Homo sapiens: one gene and its partners. The protein of the gene in region 2 binds, or shares a complex with, the protein of the main gene of each other region. Each region holds a gene or a part of one and is shown on either strand. Other genes may lie near its edges.

What was found.
Region 1: ACTR2 (region 2) and ARPC3 share a complex: the UniProt entries of both Homo sapiens proteins name them as parts of the arp2/3 complex.
Region 3: ACTR2 (region 2) and ARPC1B share a complex: the UniProt entries of both Homo sapiens proteins name them as parts of the arp2/3 complex.
Region 4: ACTR2 (region 2) and ARPC5 share a complex: the UniProt entries of both Homo sapiens proteins name them as parts of the arp2/3 complex.

Annotation. Positions count from the first base shown.
Region 1 is NC_000012.12:110,434,282-110,440,344, forward strand, and holds the end of ARPC3 (actin-related protein 2/3 complex subunit 3), read right to left. Parts: coding exon 6,031-6,063; intron 2,872-6,030; coding exon 2,803-2,871; intron 2,403-2,802; coding exon 2,276-2,402; intron 1,924-2,275; coding exon 1,829-1,923; intron 937-1,828; coding exon 874-936; 3' UTR 542-873; downstream 1-541. UniProt on the Homo sapiens protein: Component of the Arp2/3 complex, a multiprotein complex that mediates actin polymerization upon stimulation by nucleation-promoting factor (NPF).
Region 2 is NC_000002.12:65,265,789-65,271,759, reverse strand, and holds the end of ACTR2 (actin-related protein 2), read right to left. Parts: intron 3,197-5,971; coding exon 3,026-3,196; 3' UTR 507-3,025; downstream 1-506. UniProt on the Homo sapiens protein: ATP-binding component of the Arp2/3 complex, a multiprotein complex that mediates actin polymerization upon stimulation by nucleation-promoting factor (NPF).
Region 3 is NC_000007.14:99,391,682-99,395,316, reverse strand, and holds the end of ARPC1B (actin-related protein 2/3 complex subunit 1B), read right to left. Parts: intron 2,647-3,635; coding exon 2,441-2,646; intron 1,289-2,440; coding exon 1,198-1,288; intron 867-1,197; coding exon 828-866; 3' UTR 501-827; downstream 1-500. UniProt on the Homo sapiens protein: Component of the Arp2/3 complex, a multiprotein complex that mediates actin polymerization upon stimulation by nucleation-promoting factor (NPF).
Region 4 is NC_000001.11:183,620,308-183,625,793, forward strand, and holds the end of ARPC5 (actin-related protein 2/3 complex subunit 5), read right to left. Parts: 3' UTR 539-5,486; downstream 1-538. UniProt on the Homo sapiens protein: Component of the Arp2/3 complex, a multiprotein complex that mediates actin polymerization upon stimulation by nucleation-promoting factor (NPF).

The DNA of each region.
Region 1 (6,063 bases), on a different chromosome or scaffold from region 2:
CGTGAGCCATCGCACCCGGCCCGGCTGGTTTTTGTATTTTTAGTAGAGACCAGGTTTCTCCGTGTTAGTCAGGCTAGTCTCAAACTCCCGACCTCAGGTGATCTGCCCGCCTGGGCCTCCCAAAGTGCTGGGATTACAGGCGTGATCCACTGCGCCTGGCCATATTAGTATATTTTATTTCATACATATACACAGAGAGAAAAAAAAGAAAAAGAGAAAAGAAAGCACTGATATATGCTCTAACATGGATGAATTAGAAAACATTAAGTCAAAGAAGCTAGACATAAAAGGCCACATGTTGTATAAAAAATTCAATTTACATGAATTATCCAGAATAAGCAAATCCATAGAGACAGAAAGTAGATTAATACTGGGAGGAGGGGTGGGAGGGACAGGGGGCTTGGGGAGGAATGTGGGGTGGGGTGGCTGCTAAAGAGTGCAGGTTCACTACACCGGGGTGATGAAAATGCTCTGGATTTACTGGGGATGGTTGTAAAACTTCATGTATATACTAAAAAAAGTGAATTGTACACTTTAAAAGGGCATTATGGAATGTGAATTTTATCTCAAAACAAATTGTAAGTGAATGTCAAAGACTGGCAATAAAGTTTTTCTGACATGGAATGTTAGAAATTTCTTTATTATTACTTATTCTTATTAAGCGCCAGCTTTAATGCTGCAGAAAATTTCAAATCACCCTTGATAACCCACTTTCTTTTCTCCCACCCAAATTCTTGATCAAGAGTTTTTCAAGTAAAGACATGCTCTTCTCTCTTCTGTATAAAACTTTACGAAATAAAGGCAAAAGATTGTGTACATCTTGCTGGAAAATGCTGCCCAGGGCTCTGGAGACGGTGGCTGCCCGGGCTCCCTTCACTGTCCAGGTCCTGAAAGACTCTTGTTCATGAACTGTCTCTTCACAAAGCAAGTCCACCACTAACAAGAGAGAACAACACAGAATGAACAGCGGGGTCAAATTACAATAGAATTTGCATTTATTTAATAATAAAATTTCACATTAGTCTGGAATCTCTTATAAACTTTTTTTTTTTTTTTTTGAGACGGAGTCTCGCTCTGTCGCCCAGGCTGGAGTGCTGGAGTGCAGTGGTGTGATCTTGGCTCACTGCAAGCTCCGCCTCCTGGGTTCATGCCATTCTCCTGCCTTAGCCTCCCCAGTAGCTGGGACTACAGGCGCCTGCCACCACGCCTGGCTAATTTTTTGTATTTTTTAGTAGAGACGGGGTTTCACCATGTTAGCCAGGATGGTCTCAATCTCCTGACCTCATGATCCGCCTGCTTTGGCCTCCCAAAGTGCTGGGATTAGAGGCGTGAGCCACCGCGCCTGGCCATAAACCCTTTTTAGACAAAGTCTCACTCTGTCATTCAGGCTGGAGTGTAATGGCATGATCTTGGCTCACTGCAACCTCCACTTCCTGGGTTCAAGCGACTCTCTTGTCTCAGCCTCCTGAGTAGCTGAGATGACAGGTGCACACCATCATGCCTGGCTAATTTTTTGTATTTTCAGTAGAGATGGGGGTTTCACCATGTTGGCCAGGCTGGTCTCGAACTCCTGACCGCAAGTGATCCACTCGCCTCGGCCTCCCAAAGTGGTGGGATTACAGGCGTGAGCCACTGCGCCCGGCCTGCAATTCATTATTTAGTGTGATTCAGTGAACTCATATTACATACTAGACATATACTGGAAGTTAAGCAACATTGCAATGCAGAAATTAAAAATATTCTTGCAATGGAAGACCTTAGTGTGTTCAATGGTGGCTATGGGATAAAAGGTGATTTACCAATTAAGCAGGCAAGAAGAGGGTCTTACCTTGCTGGGTTTATCATTCTGAGGGTCGAAAACTTTCTCACAAAGTCTCAGTCCAGTCTCTTGCCTTAGCTGTTGTAAATAGGCTCTCATCACTTCTAAAACAGAACAATTTAAAAAAAACTGTATTTGCAAATACATCCCAAATGTACTGGTTGCAGCTCTGGATGCTCACTGTGGTAATACATTTTTATACATTTGAACAGGATACAAAATAGAAATGACAGTCCAGATAGTTTTATAACTATATTTGTTTTTGTTCAAAAGATTTTCTGCATGTCATCCTTGTTGCCAAGAATCGTTTGTGAGAGTGACTAATAAGATAATGTACTTCCTATGATTTCACTCTCAATCTGTACATGAATCAAGGCAAGAAAAAGAGGGGTGGTAGGAAGTCAAATGGAGAAAATCTTCTTGTGTCACAGAGTGAGGATAGAGACCTGTTCTTACCATCTTCCTGTTTGTTTGCAGGTTTGGCATAAATTGCGTTAAGTGGAAAACCAGGCTCTCCAGGAATGGGAAAATTAGTGATTCCCAGCGTATACATTTCTTTCTCACCTTGGCTTTTGGAATTGCACTGGAAAAAAAAATATATATATATATATACACACACACACACACACACACACACACACACACACACACACATATTTTACAGGGAAAAGAAGAATTCTATCCTTGGACCCCAGGTTAAGAACCCTTGAGTCAAGGGCTTAAAAGGAATTCCTCTGTCAAGATTTCTGTCTTGAGAAAATATATTCAAAGCCTTAAAACACCACTACTTTTATCTTTGTGTCAGTCAATTATACTACAAGTTCAGGTAACTAAATTCAAATTTTTCTCTTAAGTCCATGCTGTAAGTCAGAGGAAATATTTTCTACTTGTCTTTAAAGTCTCAACAAATCCCAGATGACTGGGAGGGTAAATGCCTCTCAGCAATTTGTTTTCCTGATATACAATCATCCAAGTTTAATTACCTTTTGCAGTTTCTTCAGACATTCAGAAATGTAGAGAGTTATATATATCAAGGTCCTATCAGCTTCATTCTACAGGGAGAAAAAGAAGACTTAAAAACAGTTATCAAAACATAACAATGATGTGCAATGTATGCATTCCATCTTTGTCTTCTGATTATCTGCTGAATGCAGTGGTAGGACAGCCACTATCACATCAAAACTCCCATTCTCCAAATGCACAGTCTCCTCAGTCTCCTTTTCCGTCTGCCCCTGGGAGGAAGGCACAAGCCCCACTCTGAGATGTGCAGCTGCTTTTTTTTTTTGAGACGGAGTCTTGCTCTGTTGCCCAGGCTGGAGTGCAGTGGCACAATCTCAGCTCACTGCAACCTCCACCTCCCAGGTTCAAGCAATTCTCCTGCCTCAGCCTCCCGAGTAGCTGGGATTACAGGTGCCCGCCACCACGCCTGGCTAATTTTTCTATTTTTAGTAGAGACGGGGTTTCACCATGTTGGCCAGGTTGGTCTCGAACTCCTGACCTCAAGTGATCTGTCCACCTCAGCCTCCCAAAGTGCTGGGATTACAGGCATGAGCCACCACGCTCGGCTGAGTGGCTGCTCTCTCTTGTTTTTCTCGGCTCCCCTTGCCCCAGGGTTCCCAAGGATCTGTGTCAACAGCCCCTCACTGTATAGGAAGAAGTAACAAAGCTGCCTGGAAAGCCTGAACTGCTCCATATGGTTGGCTAATTTTTAAAAACCCTTCCCTTCAGGGTCTCTGCCGAGAACAGAAATAGTCATTACTCTAAAGGAGGAAGCAACTATTTCACATTTGACTTGCTCCCAAAGAACTCCATAATCTCAATGTCTTGACCTAACCAAAAAGAAAATGTGGAGAAGACAAATGAATGTTGATCAAATGTGGTATGGACTTTGGGTCAAATTTTACACAAATTTAGGCCAGGTGCAGTGGCTTATGCCTGTAATCCCAGCACTTTGGGAGGTTGAGGTGGGTGGATTGCTTGAGCCCAGGAGTTTGAGACCAGCCTGGGCAACATGGCGAAACACCGTCTCTACTAAAAATACAAAAATTAGCCAGTCATGGTGGCGTGCGCCTGTAATCCCAGCTGCTAGGGAGGCTAAGGCCACAGAATCGCTTGAAGCCAGGAGGCAGAGGTTGTAATGAGTCAAGACTGTACCACTGCACTGCAGCCTGGGCAACAGAGCAAGACTCTGTCTCGAATTAAAAAAAAAAAAAAAAAGGCCGGGTGCGGTGGCCCACACCTGTAATCCCAACACTTTGGAAGTCCAAGGTGGGTGTATCACGAGCTCAGGAGATCGAGACCATCCTGGCCAACGTGGTGAAACCCTGTCCCTACCAAAAAATACAAAAATTAGCTTGGCGTGGTGGCGCGTGCCTGTAATCCCAGCTACTTGGGAGGCTGAGGCAGGAGAACCACTTGAACCCGGGAGTCGAGGGTTGCACTGAGCCGAGATCACGCCATTGCACTCCAGCCTGGTGACAGAGCGGGACTCTGTCTCAAAACAAAAAAACAACAAAAAAATTACCCCCAAACCACACCATTTTCCTATATATTTTTTTTTTTTTGAGTGTTTCACTTTTGCTGCCCAGGCTGGAGTGCAATGGCGTGATATTGGCTCACCGCAACCTCTGCCTCCTGGGTTCAAGTGATTCTCCTGCCTCAGCCTCCCAAGTAGCTGGGATTACAGGCACGCACCACCACGCCCAGTTAATTTTGTATTTTTAGTAGAGACGGGGTTTCCCCATGTTGGTCAGGCTGGTCTCAAGCTCCCGACCTCAGGTGATCCGCCCGCCTTGGCCTCCCAAATTACGGGCAGAGGCACTGCGCCCAGCCACATTTCCCTATTTTTAAGACAATATAGTATCTGGGAACAAATGAAATGTGGCAGAGTTTTTTGTTTTTTTTTTGAGACAGTCTTGCTCTGTCGCCCAGGCTGGGTGCAGTGGTGTGATCTCGGCTCACTGCAACCATCACCTCCTGGGTTCAAGCAATTCTTGTGCTTCAGCCTCCCGAGTAGCTGGGATTACAGGCATGCACTACTACACCTGGCTAATTTTTGTATTTTTGGTAGAGATGGGGTTTCGCTTTGTTGGCCAGGCTGGTCTCAAACTCCTGGCATCATGTGATCCACCCGCCTCAGCCTCCCAAGTGTTGGGATTACAGGCGTGAGCCACCATGCACTAATTTTTCTATTTTTTGTAGAGACGGGGGTTCGCCATGTTGCCCAGGCTGGTCTCGAACTCCTGAACTCAAGCAATGTGCCCAGAGAATTGTAACATTTATAACTGTTACAAACTTAACCCACACATGAGATATAGAAAACATTCTATTACCATCACAGAATGTTTAGACTACAATTTGTACACCAAGAGTCTACAAATAAATAATTCACAACCTGTTTGATTCCAGAAGTTCAGAGTTTGGCAAGGAGGGGCTGAAATTCCATTTTAGGGCCGGGAGCGGTGGCTCACGCCTGTAATCCCAGCACACTGAGAGGCTGAGGTGAGCGGATCATGAGGTCAGGAGATCGAGACACCATCCTGCCTAACATTGTGAAACCCCGTCTCTACTAAAAATACAAAAAATTAGCCAGGTGTGGTGGTGCATGCCTGTAGTTCCAGCTACCTGGGAGGCTGAGGCAGGAGGACTGTCTGAGCCCAGGAGGTTGACGGTATAGTGAGCTGTGATTGTGCCACTGCACTCTAGCCTGGGCGACGGAGCAAGACCCTGTCTCAAAACAAAACAAAAGGCTGGCACATAGTAGGTGCTGCTTAACTAATGTTGAATAAATAAAGATACTTCTAGCAAGGGGTTGGCAAACTTTCTCTGTAAAAGGCAGGCAGTATTTTTAGGTTTTGTGGGCCATACAGTCTTTGTCACAACTACTCAATTCTGCTGTTTTGGTGTGAAAGTAACTATAGATAATATAGAAACAAATGGTTGTGGCTGTGTTCCAATAAAGGTTTATTCATAAAAAGGGGCAGTGGGCCAAATGTGGCCCTCAGGTTAGAGTTTGCCAACCCCTGGTATAGAATTTGGAGGAAAAAAAAAGAAACTAATATTTATACAAAAGCTAACATTAAGCACTGCTCTCGAATTTAAAAATTACATGCTGATTTCATTTTATTTTCTCCTCACAGCAATCTGGATAGCAAGGTTGGTATTATCCCTATGAGAAAACTAAGTTAAATATTAAAAGCTCCGTAATTTACCTTAATTTCATAGTTTTTGAAGAAGACATTGGC
Region 2 (5,971 bases):
TCTGGGACTCCGGCCCTGAAGCGGGCAATGAGGTTTGCACATACAAGTCCACGAAGAAGGAAAGGCAAAAATACTCTCTCTACTCTCCAGCCCTCATCCTCAAGGCTAGTATAAAACAAGAAAAGGTCAGTTAAATGTATTTTCATCCTTCTTTTATTTGTTAAAAATAATATGCCTAAAAGTCTGCAGATGAGCTAATATGTCCTTGAAAGGGGGCATGTTACATACAGGTCTCTTTAGCATTTCTAATTCTGTGAAAGCCACCTTAAATCTTTTGGGAGACAAAACAGTTTGTTGGAAGAAAACAGCCTCTGATGTAGCTATAAATCGCTATTCTATTTTCTTATGTATTTATAAAATCATACCAGAAATAATGAGTTGTTTTGTCAATAATAGAACACTGACATGAACTTGACCTAACAACTAGCATAAACTGTCAATTCATCTTGCATTAACAAGAAAATGAAACAAGAAATAACTATTAGAAAGAAATGACAAAATTCAAATTGACTTTGAAAAAATCTGATTTTATTTTCTCAATCAAAATGAAGTATTTCATGTTAATTTAGACTGTTTAGCTTTCCACTGATATCTCAAGATACTTTCCAGATATTAACAGTACTCAGAACTGTGTAAAAGTTAACCACCAAAACCATGTTTTAAAGAAAAAAGTTTAAATGTAAGACTAATGTCTTGGGGACTTTACTAAATGTATTTCTAAAAAAACCCTTCTCAAATGTAGAAGTATTGGCAATTCTAATTTAAAAATTTTAAATTTTTAATTATTGGAAATTTAAGTAGCAATAGTTTCAAGAGCTAAGAATCAGATTGCTTTTTAAAACAGAATTTTTTTTTTTTCCTGAGGGACTCATACTTGACAACTCCAGTTAAACATAATACTCCACCCAAATCCCAAATTTAAATGCATTATGTCACCCTGGAATAGTAAAATTATAAAATGGTATTTCTAAATTATAATATATATACATAATGCACCATTTTAACTGTCACATTTACCAGCAGAATTATGAAATCAAAAACAAATTCTACATTCAAGGGACAAACGATAAATGCTCTTTCATTGTTTTAAGAGTCCATTCCATTCTTTGTTGTTTTCTACTCCCATATTTTAAAATTATGACCAAAGGAGCCTGAAGGCCAAGTCAATCCCATTTCCCTGAACCCAACTGCCAGTAGGTACGGGCCCTACATACGCGTCCTTTAACAAGCCCCGTTCTCAAAAGGCTGGGGGTATTTATATAAGAACTTATTCCAAAGTGACTCTAAGATCCATGTTCCCAAGATCTAGTACGGGCTATTCAGGGTTCTGAGGCATGTCCAGCATGCAGGCAAACTTATCTGTTCAAATTGAGGTAAAACAGACAAAAAACACTTAATATTAACAGAAGCTACATAATTAAAACTAACCTTCTGCTGCTTATTTAAGCTAATGATGTATTCTTACCAAACAGAGACCCTCAAGTCAATCATTTCTTTTGATTTTAGTTACCACCCCCAAATTAAGCCTCTTCTTTCAAAGCTATTATTAGTTAAAAAAAAGTTTTAAAATGAAGAAAAATATTTTTTCCAGAACTTGTATTTTGTAATTAGTGTGATGCAATTTCTTTTTATTTTTCAAACTTAGAAATAACTCATGTATGGTACTATTTGGTATTTTTTTCAGATACCAAGGAATACCGACAGGATTCATAAATAGGATTTTCTGACACTGGCAGGAAAGTCTGCTAACGTTTACAAAATACCAAAGACTCTTCTTTCAAGCTTCAAAGATGGCTGAGAATTAACAGTTATGATTAGTTTTTCAGTACAAATAAAAAAATTAAATCTTGATTTTTTTGGCCAACATTTTAAACAGTCAAATTTTACTGTATTTCCAGGTTTCAAATCAAAACAAACAAAACAACTAATGAAAATTACCCAATTGGCAACAAGTCCTGTATTCCAATGTTATTTTTAAACCACCAATTATAACCTACTGCCAGTAATTATTTGTAAGTACCTGCTTGTTTTATTAAGCACTGGTCAGTTATATAAAAGAATAATTTGCAAGAATGATACTTGGCAATGGGTTACCTTAATGCTTCTGGAATAAACAGAAGCATTAACAAAACACCAGATCTTAAGCTCTTTTAAATCTGTAATTCGAATTACCCAAAGGATTTTTAAATGTTACTTTTCCATTGAAGGACTGTAGGGAGTCTAATCCCAGCTAACATGGTTGATTTTAAAAAACAAATAAATCCCTAAGCCACATAGTAATGGAATACTACACTTGCTTTTTATATCATATGGAAACAGCTCCAGGCAGAGCACAAGTAGAAGAAAACCTGCCAAATCAAAGTACTGTAAATAAAGTTCCTCTACGTACTCCAGTTGACAAAACCTCAAAAATAAAAATCAGAAGACCACCCATTGTTACCCTCCCCCCCGCAACAAAACCCACCCAAAACACTTTAGTTCTGAACCTAACATTTCCCTAAGAAGTTCACAGGAGAAGCTTTAAGGTACTTAAAGCTGCAGCAGTACAGTTGAAAGCGCCACATTACAGAGGAAATGCCCTAAAGGGTTCAGCAGCTGCCCACCCATCCCGAACCACCCCCCATCCCAGTAATATGTAAAAGCTCCTGTTAAAGTTTTTTTTGTTTTATGCTAATAAAGGCATACCACCTAGTGTGCTAAAGACTACGACTAGCAGCATTAGAGCAGTAAAGTGAAAATAGGAAGCCTATAGGAATGATCTAAATGCCTACTTAGAAGAAACAAAGCAGCAGACAGAATCCTTAGCCCTCTAGTCTATGTAGGGAAGCAGTTGAATTAAACTCAGATTTACCCACATTAACAAAAATTTAACAAAGCTTCCCCAAGACACCAGAATAAAACTTGACCTTTCCAGTCAAAGGGCAGAGAGAGGCCTCTTCCATGTCCTGGAGTTGAATGAGTTCAAAGATTGGCAATAAAGGAAAAAAGAAAGCATTACGGGTATGACGGGAACAAGCTTTGGAGTTTATCGAACAGTCACACCAAGTTTCTCTAGCACACGGACACCCTTTTCTTGGTACTCTTGTCGGGTCATCCAAAAGTTGTCTTTGTCTTTCATGATATCCGCTAGAACTGCACCACCCAGGAATACCATGTGCTTTCTGCGGGGTGGGTCTTCAATGCGGATCTTAAATTTCTAAAGGAGAAAGAAAGGATAATGAAATGGTACATGTGCACAGTGCTTTCTGCTTTATGAAAATGGCTTTTTAAATATATGCTCTCCCTCAAACTTGCAACAGTCCTGTAATATAAGTAGAACGTAATATTTGGTACCTGAGGTACAGAAACATTTAGTAATTTGCCCAAAGCTCATGTTTAGGAGACCACACATCCATCCCAGCATGCTTGGAACAGTCCTGATTTACACGTGGTGTCCCATCATTATTAATACCACCCTTTCCATTCTTGAGTGTCCTAATTTGATCAGTAAATTACATGACTTAACACCCTACTGAGAGACCAAACATCCAAGACATAATTAGAGCAAATTTCCCATCCAATGGCAGATGACCACTTGGGAAAGTCACTTTGCTGTCAAGCAAAGTCTGGATAAGAGGACTTGCATGGCTGGGTGTGGTGGCTCAAGTGTAATCCCAGCACTTTGGGAGGCCAAGGCGGGCGGATCACGAGGTCAGGAGATCGAGACCATCCTGGCTAACACAGTGAAACCCCGTCTCTACTAAAAATACAAAAAAATTAGCCGGGCATGGTAGTGGGTGCCTGTAGTCCCAGCTACTCGGGAGGCTGAGGCAGGAGAATGACGTAAACCTGGGAGGTGGAGCTTGCAGTGAGCCCAGAGACTCAATCTCAAAAAAAAAAAAAAAAAAAAAAAAAAAAGAGGACTTGCATGACTTCTTCAAGGTCTCATACTGTTATGATTCTAGTCCAGGGCAATAGAGTAAAACTGAAGTTCTTTTCTTTTAAGCAAAGCTTACTTTCTATTGTCTCAAAATCAAATGAAATGTTCTTAAAATAAACAAGGCCAAATATGGTCAAAACAAATCATCAGGATGTTATGAGAAAATGAACACAGTAACCAAAATTAAAGGCAATTGGGAAAAGTTTTATACTCTGTAGCTACTATTAAGTGTCTAGGAAGGACACATCCTTATCTTTATGGTTGGTCAACACCTGAAAGAGAAACCTTAAAATGACATAGCAAGTTTTTCATTTACAGTATCACGATCTGCAAAAAAGACCCAATGTAACTATGTCATTCTAAATCATTTGTATATTTATGTCACATAAATGAACTGTAAGGGTTCTAACAATCCAAGATAAAGAAAAACATCAGTTTATTTACCAATTCTGAGACTGTTTTAATTGTTCCTTTTACTTTCTTGCTCTTACATAGGGGTCAGCAAACTTTTTTTGTGAAGGGCCAGATACTTGAGGCTTTGTAGGCGTGACAAGTACCCAACCCCACATGTAGCTAGAAGGTGCCCACAGACAATATGTGACAACAGGTAACATTATGTAAACAAATGGGCTTGGCTGTGTTCCAATAAAACTTAAAAAAAACAAACAAACCAGTTTTGGCATAAGGGCTATAGATGACCACCTCTACTCTAAGGGAAACTTAGCTAGCCCCTGAAGACACTGCTTCTGTAAATACCTCAACTGCTTTACTGTTTCTCTCTCACACACTACCTTAACCCTGGAGGTTTGGTAATATGAGTTATTGCTCTTCATTGCTGCTTCTATCTCGCTCATCCCTAAAACTCCATAGCCCCACTGAAACTCATTCTATCAGATCATTCCATCTACCACTCCCTCCTTGCTGAACTCATCTACAGATTCCTACAGACAAATTGCACCTGCTGTCAAGCAGCTGAACAAGATAGGAAAGAAACAAAACATCTTGCTATAATGTATCACTAACCTCAACTGAGCCCTTCCTGCTGCATGGCAATCCTATTACATTTCTCTATTCTCGCTTCCATTCTCCAAAACAACCATTTCAACCTCCTCCTCTATTCTAAAACTCTACCATCCCTCCCCTCCTCTCAGTGCCTCCTAACTGGTCTCTCTATGCCCACCTTTGTTCCCTCTTCCCCCAAGAGTCTATTCACCACACCAGACTTAATGATCCTTTAAAAATATACATCAGATCCTATCATTTCTCTGCTTAAACCGCCCCCACACCCAAGACTTTCCATTTCACCAGGAGTCAAGCCAAACCCTTTACCATGGCTGAACAAGACCTGCCCTCCTGCTACCCTTCTGACCTCATATCCCACCTGCCCCCCTCCCTTGCTCACTCTGCTCCAGCCACACTGGCACACTCCCACCAACCTGGGGCTTTTGCATTTTTCCTGCCTGGAAGATTCTTCCCCCAGACAGTCACAAGGCTCACTCCTCTCACGCTCAACTTAGGTCTCTGATCAAAAGTCACTTCATCCAAAAGGCCTTTCCTGATCACAGTTTATGAAGGAGCACACTACCTCCCCAACCACTAACATTTTCCAGCTCTTCACCTTACTTTTCTTCATATCACTTATTACCACTAATACATTATTTAGACTAAAAGCAGGGATTCTGTTTTCATTGTTTTGTTTGTCCCCGGCACCTAGACCTATGTCTGGCACCCAGGAGTTCAAGAAATGTTTGCTGAATAAATGATCACCTGAGATTAATTATAAATTATATGTAAAACTCAATAAAATCAGAAAAATAAGTGAAGTACTTAGACAGTATGGCTCCTTTCCAGTCTGTTAATCTGTTTAATGTATGTGAGCCCATACTCAATTTAATTTCAACAATGAGTCATATATGAAAGATGTAACATACAGTACTCTGTAATACATAATCTCATTATCTAAAACAGTTGATCAAAGTCAGTGAGACAAAGCTCAGAGATTAACTCAGGATTAGATAACTCTTGGTTAAGTATACAGCACATACTGTATAC
Region 3 (3,635 bases), on a different chromosome or scaffold from region 2:
TAACCAGGCTTGGTGGTGTATGCCTGTAATCCCAGCTACTTGGGAGGCTGAGGCAGGAGAATCGCTTGATCCCAGGAAGGCAGAGGTGGCAGTGAGCTGAGAACGCACAACTGCACTCCAGCCTGGGTGACGAGCAAAACTCCATCTCAAAACAAAAGTTCCACAACCAGCCTGGAGTGTGTAGCCCCTTTGTCCAGGAATTTGACTAGTCAATCAGTGACACCTGGTACTGGCAGTTTTGGGAGTGGCAGCCCAGGATGGACAGCAGTGGGGAGGGAACCATTTGGCATAAGGCCGTTGGGCTTCAGGATCAATTTTGTTGGCAAGCAGTAAAAATAAGCTATCTACCTATGGCCGTGCAAACACCAATCTCTCCCTGGAGTCCCAGCTACTTGGGAGGCTGAGGCAGAAGGATTGCTCCCACGAGTTCTAGTGCAGCCTGGAAAACTTAGCAAGACCCCAAGGAAATAACAAAAAACCTCTCCTTCCACATAGGCAAGCATGTCCATAATTACTTTTTTTTTTTTTTTTTTTTTTACACAGTTGCATTTTATTACCTCCACATTTTGAAGCAGTTCATGACCAGCATAGTGCTTTGGGGGCATTTTTTTTTTTTTTCAATAAATGAAAGCATTTAAGAAAAAGGCACGTATTCCTTGAATAGGTAAGAAAAGCTCCCCATCTGTCCCCTCCCTTTTTGAGGGAGCAGCCCCTATGGGAACTCGTATTGGTACCCCAGAAACATTCAGCAAAGCAACCATTAGCCTCCCTGACCCCTCTCCCCGCTTCCCCAGCAGCTAGGATGAAGGCAACATATTCCTCACAGGTCATTTGATCTTGAGGTCCTTCAAGGCTGACTCCAAGCTCTGCAGGGAGGCAGAACGGACAGGCTGGTTCTCAGCTGTCCTGCAGGCACCCCACTCCCAGGGACCTGATCACCCATCTCAGCCCCAGCACAGCAGAGGGCAGAGAACCTGCAGTTTTGGAGTCTGTCAGCTGGGTTGGAATCCCGGCCCTGAAGACGGGTGCCCCAGTGAGCACCAAGGCCCAGATGTCAAGGGGCCGCCCCCACCCCTCATCCCCATGCAGTGCCATCTCTGCAGGAGTGAAGGATGGGGGTCATCTCCAGGGAGTGGGGATGGGGGGAAAGGGTTGACCTGGGAGGCATGGCGGGAAGCCAGGAGGGGCAAGCCTCACCTTCACATCCCAGATACTCATGCCGCCATCCATGCCAGTGGTGCAGAACTGCGAGCACTTGGCCTTGCCGCCGCTGAGCACCGAGATCTGGCTGCAAAGAGGAAGAGGAGCTTATGAATTCAACCTGTGCTGGCGCTGGGCTCAGGCCCACCCTGTCCACCAGGCGCTCCCAGACTTCTTGGGGAGCGGGCTTTAGTGAGAAGTACCGAGGGGGTGTAGTGGGCTTAGAAGTCAGTTCTGCCTTGGGGACAGTGGCATGCGAGGTGCAGGCAAATGGGACAGGACACTCAAGTCCTGGGAGGCAGGAAAGACACGTGTGTCTGCGGAGTGTACACAGTGCCAGCAGTGCAGCTGGACAGGACAAAAAAGGAGATGGGGGTGGGGGCAGCCAGGGACTAAGCTGATAGCTGGACAAAGGTGTTTCATCTGAGGAAGCCATCGGATCTGGCGGACACAGGAGGTTTTACAGACCGAAGGGCTTGGCCAGTCTTGCCATACAGCTCCCGCTCCCTCTGATTCGCCGCGGGGTGGACACGTGTGGCTGGCAGCTTTTGGGCTTTGAAGAGCCTCTTCCCCATCCCACCCTAGATCCATAGAAGGCTGCGGAGAGACCCTCAGCTCCGCCCCCACCTCGCTAAGTGCTAGCAATAGACCCGCCCCAGCTGTGACCCCGCCCAGGAAGCCCGCTGGTCACTGCCTGGCCACCCCAGAGAACCGTAGGGGCCAGCCCTACGACAGTCCCCACCTAAGTCCCGGAAATGCAGAGCGAGGCTAGCTGCTCAGCCCCATCTGATGCTATTTTTATGCAACCTAAAGAGGTCGACCCCGTCTTATGTCGGTCGCACCGTGTCCCTCCCAGGCTCCACTAGCACCTGGGCTGCTATGGTGAGATCAAGATGGGCCCCGCCCACAACTAACGATGTTATTCCGCAGCGAGTCAAAGCCACTCCCTACCCTGGGCCCGCTACGCGACCTCTGCCGGCCTCCGCCCCACGCGGTTTTAGTACGGCGCCAAGGCCCCGCCCACAAATCGGCCCCGTCCCCTCGTGTCCGGGCCCGCCGCTCATCAGACGCCGTTCCGGCGCAGCGAGTTGAGGGCACGCCTACCCTCCCTCCGGGTCCCCAGTCCTCAAGGTCCCAGCACAATGCCCCAGGAGGAAGACTCCAGGCCCCTTCCTCACCCGACGCTGTTTCTGGGCGAGCCGAGGCCCCGCCCACCCGCCGGCCCGGCTCCCGCTCTCACCTGACGCTGTTCTTGTGCAGCGAGTCTAGGCCCGCGCCCGCAGCCGTGCCACCCTCGGAGCTCGCCTTCTTGTCCAGGTTCTGGAAGCGCTCGCGGGCCGTCAAGCCACGCTGCGAGCTCTGCTTAGGAACGTCCAGCCGCCCGCCGAAGCTCAGCATCCCCGCGGCGGCGTCATAGGTGAACAGCACCGGGAAGCAGTCGTGGCCCTGCGCGGAGGGCGGGGGCCATTGGAGCGCCGCGGAGGGGAAACCGAGGCCGGAGGGAAGGCCAGGCGGGCGTCTGGCCGCCCGGGAGGCAGATGCCAGCTCAAGGATACAGACGGGCCACAGCGAGGGAGGCCCGAATTGCAGGTGTATCAAAACCGGGGGTGATGCTGGGGGCTGCCACCTCCCCCAGCAAGGCCAGCGTTGGGACTCCCTGGGAGCTCAGGCGCCTTCTGTCCTGCCCAGCCAGTTACACCTGCTCTAGGGGAGACCCCTGCAGCTGTTTGCTTTTCTAGGCAAAAAGCAAGCCTGACCTGGCCCTGGCACCCCCATTATGTTTGCAGAGGGGTGAAAAGGGACTTGACAGATGTGGGCGGAGGGGAGGGAGAGCAGTGCCCTTCCTGGACACCTGGAGGAACCGCACACCCCGAACTCTCGCCCTTTGCATTAGGCGTGGCCTTGCCATTGCACCTGCCAATAAAATGTGGGCAGAAATGTTAAGACCCAGGGCATGATTCCGCAGGTTCCGGCTCCCTCGTGGCATCTGGGACAGCATGCTGGGGACAGCTTCCATCAGAGCACCTCACAACACCCACACTGGACATAAAATGTGAGCAAGAAGTAAATATCTTTTTTTTTCTGTTTTTGAGATGGAGTCTCGGTGGCTCACCCTTGGCTCACTGCAACTTCTGCCTCTGGGTTCAAGCAATTCTCCTGCCTCAGCCTCCCGAGCAGCTGGGACCATGGGCGCCCACCACCACACCCGGCTAATTTTTGTATTTTTAGTAGAGATGGGGTTTTGCCATGTTGGCCAGGTTGGTCTTGAACCCCTGACCTCAGGTGATCTGCCCTCCTTGGCCTCCCAAATTGCTGGGATTACAGGTGTGAGCCACCGGGCCTGGCTCTTTTTTTTTTTTTTTTGAGACAGGTTTTGTGTCGCCGAGGCTGAAGTGCAGAGGTACGACCATAGCTCAGTTCAGAAGCCTCGACCT
Region 4 (5,486 bases), on a different chromosome or scaffold from region 2:
CACACCTTTTCCTTGACATTCTCTCTTGGAGAAGTAATTGCTCCCCATCTGTTATTGTACATGAATTTACTCTCTTCTCTATTATAGCTTGTTTACTATTGAATTTTATTCATTGCTTGTGTATCTTACCTAGAATCTAGATCCCACAGGATAAGGATTGTATTTTAAATATTTTAAGCAGCCCTTAGCATGTAAATACTTGCCTGAATGACAGTGAAACTGTGCTTTCACGTGCGAAATACTTTGGGTAGTTTGTCTTAAGAAAACACCCTCAAGTCCTGAGAAAACCAACCAAGTCAATATATTAGGATAAGACTTCCATATGGGGACCAACTAATCTCTTCTAGTTTACATTTGAAGCAGCAATTGTTGAAAAGAAAAATATGAATATTTTAAAATAAAAAAACTAAAATTTAAAATCATAAAAACATCCAAGAACACTTCATGAAATTTCTATTTTTAAATTTTGGAGCCAGGAAAATCTAAGTATGACTTGAACTCTAAATGCCATAAGAAAAGATTAATAAACTCAATTAGATAAAAATAAAAATAACCTTTTTATTTATAGTAAAAGCTATTATAAAGCGAAACTCAAAATGCAAGAAATATTTGACATTCCTGTTGAAAAGAGCTCCTACAAATCAGTAAGAAAAAGACCATCAAAAGGGCAAAGAAAATATAGAAATACAAAAATATAGAAAAGAAAATACAACTGGCTATTAGGCATGTGAAAAGATGTGCAATCTCATTTACATTAAGAGAAATGCAAATATATGATACCATTTTTAAAACATCAGATTTGAAAAGATTAAAAAATGTTTTATGACAAACACATAGAATAGGTAAAGGGGTGGGAAAACATGCATTCTTCTACACGGCTGGAGAAAGTATAATTGATAAAACCTTTAAGAAAGGCAATTTAGCAATATCTCCCTTAAATGCCCTCCAACTGACCTTAACTTTCACTTTTAGGAATTGATCTACAAATAGGCTTGAACATATGTAAAATGACTTGTGTATAATGCTATTCACTGTAGCACTGTTTGTAACTGCAAAAGATCAGAAACCACCTAAATCAATAGGGAAATGGTTAAGTAAATTATGGTACATTTATTTATATAATAGAATTATTATGCAGTCATAAAAATAAAATTGTTATCGGAAAGTGGTCCCAATCCAGACCCCAAGTGAGCGTTCTTGGATCTCACACAAGAAAGAATTCAAGGCCAGTCTGTAAAGTTAAAGCAAGTTTATTAAGAAAGTAAAGGAATAAAGAATGGCTACTCCATAGGCAGAGCAGCCCCGAGGGCTGCTGGTTGCCCATTTTAACGGTTATTTCTTGATGATATGCTAAACAAGGGGTGTATTATTCATGCCTCCCCTTTTTAGACCATATAGGATAACTTCCTGATGTTGCCATGGCATTTGTAAACTGTCATGGTGCCGGTGGGAGCGTAGCGGTGAGGATGGCCAGAGGCAGAGGTCACTTTCATTGCCATCTTGGATTTGGTGGGTTTTGGCCAGCTTCTTTACTGCAAACTGTTTTATCAGCAAGGTCTTTATGACCGGTATCTTGTGTTGACCTCCTATCTCATCCTGTGACTTAGAATGCCTTAACCATCTGGGAATGCAGCCCAGTAGGTCTCAGCCTTATTTTACCCAGCTTCTATTCAAGAAGGAATTGCTCTGGTTCAAATGCCTCTGAAGGGAATAAGGAAGTTCTTTATGTATTGATAGGAAATTACCACCAAAATATACTGTTAATGAAAAAAGCAAGGAACAGAACACTATATATAGTATGTTAGTATTTATGTACACAAAGGGGTAAAATCTTATATAGGTATTTGCCTGTAAATGCATACACTGTATCTGGAAGGATGCCTAAGAATTAAGTGACAATAGTTGGTTGTCAAAAGAGGAACTAGGGTGGAATGGAAAATTACCACAGTACATATTTCTTACCTTTTGAATATTGAACAATATGAACAAATTATTTGAAAACGAATAAAAACTAAAATGAATAAAATACAGAACCATTGGCTAATGAATACACTGACCTTTAACTTAGCAAATTGAAGAAAATCTTAGTTGCCCTGGCATCTTGATTCAATTTTTGGAGAAACAAAAGGAAGTATGATGTTATTCAGAGGCATTGGCCATTTAAGTTATTCATTACCCTAAGGGTTGACAGAATTAGAAAAATCTACGTATAAAGTCAAGGACGGTGATATAAATTCATGGATATAATTTAATGGTTATCTTTAAGGAAAACAAGGGGTATTGGGTCACATCTCTGCTCTTAGAAGGTGATGCCACAGAATAATGAACAGATCATATAAACTCCCATAGTGCCACTGTTAGCCAGATATGAGCTGGAATTCTGTTCCTCAGCCACTTTCTCTGGTGACTTCTGGCAAAGCTAAACACTATAGGGGCTGCACGTGGTACTCATGGTGGCTCTGATTTCCACCTAAGGCTGATAAATTCCCTTCTTAACTGTCCACATTGAAGTGAATTGAAATTCTTTGTGACTAAACTTGATTGGCTCTAGGGTATTTGAACCCAAGAATTATTTTACTCTTTGTATAGTTCTCAATTTGTACTTCTGATGTGTTGCCCTATTCAGGTACCCTAAGAACCTGTGTATAAATTAAGGATTTCTTAGGTGACTTGGCTCGTTCAATGTTATGCAACCAAGAGATATTTGTTGAACATCAACTATGCCAAGTGAATGTGGGGATGAGTAAGAGCCAGCTACTATGACTTCAGGGGGCCCATACAGTCTAGCAGCAAGGTCAAGAGGGTGTGTCTTGCAGAGCAGGAGCTAACTGCTAGGCTGGAAAATACGGGAGTTTTAGAATGCTTTGGAATTCAGGTGGGTCATACACTACTCAATTTGTGTTTCATGTGGTGTGGATTCTAGGGAACTGTTTCAGAGAGAAATAAGAGATGTAAACATAGATTATTTATGTTGATTACTCTTACACACTCAAGTAACAGAAATGATAAAGGAAAATAGAAATGTTAAAGTGAATGCTGTGTCCCATGTTGCTTGTGGTTGGATCATCAATGTGGTGAAGTAGCACCACCTTGAGGCAGATGACATGCTGTACCTCTGTGGGCTTCCCGGGCCTCCTCCATATCTGGAATCATACAAGAGGCACCTGCACAGAACGTTTTCACATTGGGGTTTTCACATATTGTACTAGTGACATTGGGGTGAGGGGGAGAGGGAGTGGGGCAGAGGTCCCGCGGCAGGAATATGGACAGAAGCAGCCTTGTTTAAGGGCACTTGGTTCTACAGAGGCCGTTGGTCTGTTCCTTAATTGGGTGTGTTTTTCAATTATTTTGGTGCTTTTAACATATTTTGTCTGTAAGGGGATGTTAGTTGTAAATCTAAAGGAAAAATTGTGTATCTAAAAATTAATCAATCTGGCTGGGCGCGGTGGTCACGCCTGTAATCCCAGTGCTTTGGGAGGCGGAGGAGGGTGGATCACCTGAGGTCAGGAGTTCAAGACCAGCCTGGGCAACATGGTGAAACCCCATCTCTCCTAAAAATACAAAAATTAGCTGGGCACGGTGATGCGTGCCTGTAATCCGAGCTACTCAGGAGGCTGAGGCAGGAGAATCGCTTGAGCCTGGGAGGTGGAGGCTGCAGTGAGCCGAGATTGTGCCATTGCACTCCAGCCTGAGCAACAGAGCAAGACTCCATCTCAAAAAAAAAAAATTAATTAATTAATTTTCTTTTTTACCTTTATACATGGGGTTAAACTAAGTGATCATCAATGTCTATTTCAGCTAATAAAACATTATGATTTCCTATAATTTTACTTTCTTGAATCTATCACGGAGATAGTTTCTGATCCTGTTAATAATTTGCACCATCTAGAATTCTTATGTTAAAAACATTAAAACTGCAGCTGGGCGCGGTGGCTCACGCATGTAATCCCAGCACTTTGGGAGGCCGAGGTGGGCGGATCACGAGGTCAGGAGATCGAGACCATCCTGGCTAACACGGTGAATGAAACCCCGTCTCTACTAAAAATACAAAAAATTAGCCGGGCGTGGTGGCGGGCGCCTGTAGTCCCAGCTACTTGGGAGGCTGAGGCAGGAGAATGGCGTGAACCCAGGAGGCAGAGCTTGCAGTGAGCCGAGATCGCGCCACTGCACTCCCGCCTGGGCCACAGAGCGAGACTCTGTCTCAAAAAAAACAAAACAAAACAAAACAAAACAAAACAAAACAAAAAACATTAAAACTGCAAGAACAGTGACTATTAAACCCACTTTTAACTTTCTCTTTCTACTCTGTTCATTTCACTTGGACCGTTTGTCCTTTCTGCCCCTCCAAAGGATTAGTTCAAATTAATGTCTCACTTTAAATACTCTGATCCACCCTGATTTTGTTGTTCTCCCAACATTGACTAACTGCATTTACAGTCAAATGCTAAATTGTATGACGTTAATTCTCTTTTTTTTTGTATGACATAATTTTCAGGTGCTTAACCTTACTTCCCAATTAGGCTGAGAGCAAACTGGTGAACAAGATTCAGACCTTATTCTTCTGTTATGTCCTCATGATCCTGGGATCCACAGGAAATGCTTTAAAAAGAATTCGGTTAATTTGTACCATCTACACATTGATTTCACCCATGTTCATGTCCTTAAAATATCATCATACTTGTCATCAAGTATGACTGTTACCGAAATGGTGCTGTTACCCAATGACCAAGAAGGGGTATGTTTTCCATTTCTTCCCTTTTGTAAAATGCCAAAAAAGAAACCAAATAGTAAAAGCACTGAGATTAAAGGAGGAGAATGGGAGGTAAACAACTACTTTTGTGCTAAAAGTGTCCTATGGCATTTATATATATTTTTTCCGCAATTAATCCTATTCCCAACTCTTCACCAAGGATAGTACTGTGTCATGGTTACTATACCCTGGGCTGACATTTAGTCAGGAGGCAACAGTTGAACCAGTTGTTTCCAGCTAGTATCCATTTTGACTCGGTCTCTATATTATACTACTTGTTAAATATTTTTAGTATCTCCCCTCAGTAAAGCTGATAGACTGGCAGATTCTAAATACACCCACCCATTCTTGTGAACAAATATGAACTCCAGAATTTTTCCAAACGCTTCAGTTATGAAAGTGATGTTAAGAAGGATTTTATGAAAAAGCATTCAGTATCATTTGATTTTAAAGTTTGTAATTGGTTATGCTATACCTACTTGACTACCTCTAATACCTATTGGCTAAGGCACAGTGGCATGTGCCTGTAGTTCCACCTTTTCGGGAGGCTGAGGCAGGACTGCTTGAAGCCAGGAGTTTGAGGCCTCAGTGCACTATGATCACACCTGTGAACAGCCACTGCACTCCAGCCTGGGCAGCATAGCAAGTCCCCATCTCTAAGTAATATTTAAGAATAATACCTATTGCTTAGCTTATCTTCACCCATAGGACCCTGAATTGCCTGGAAGTGTTTTAA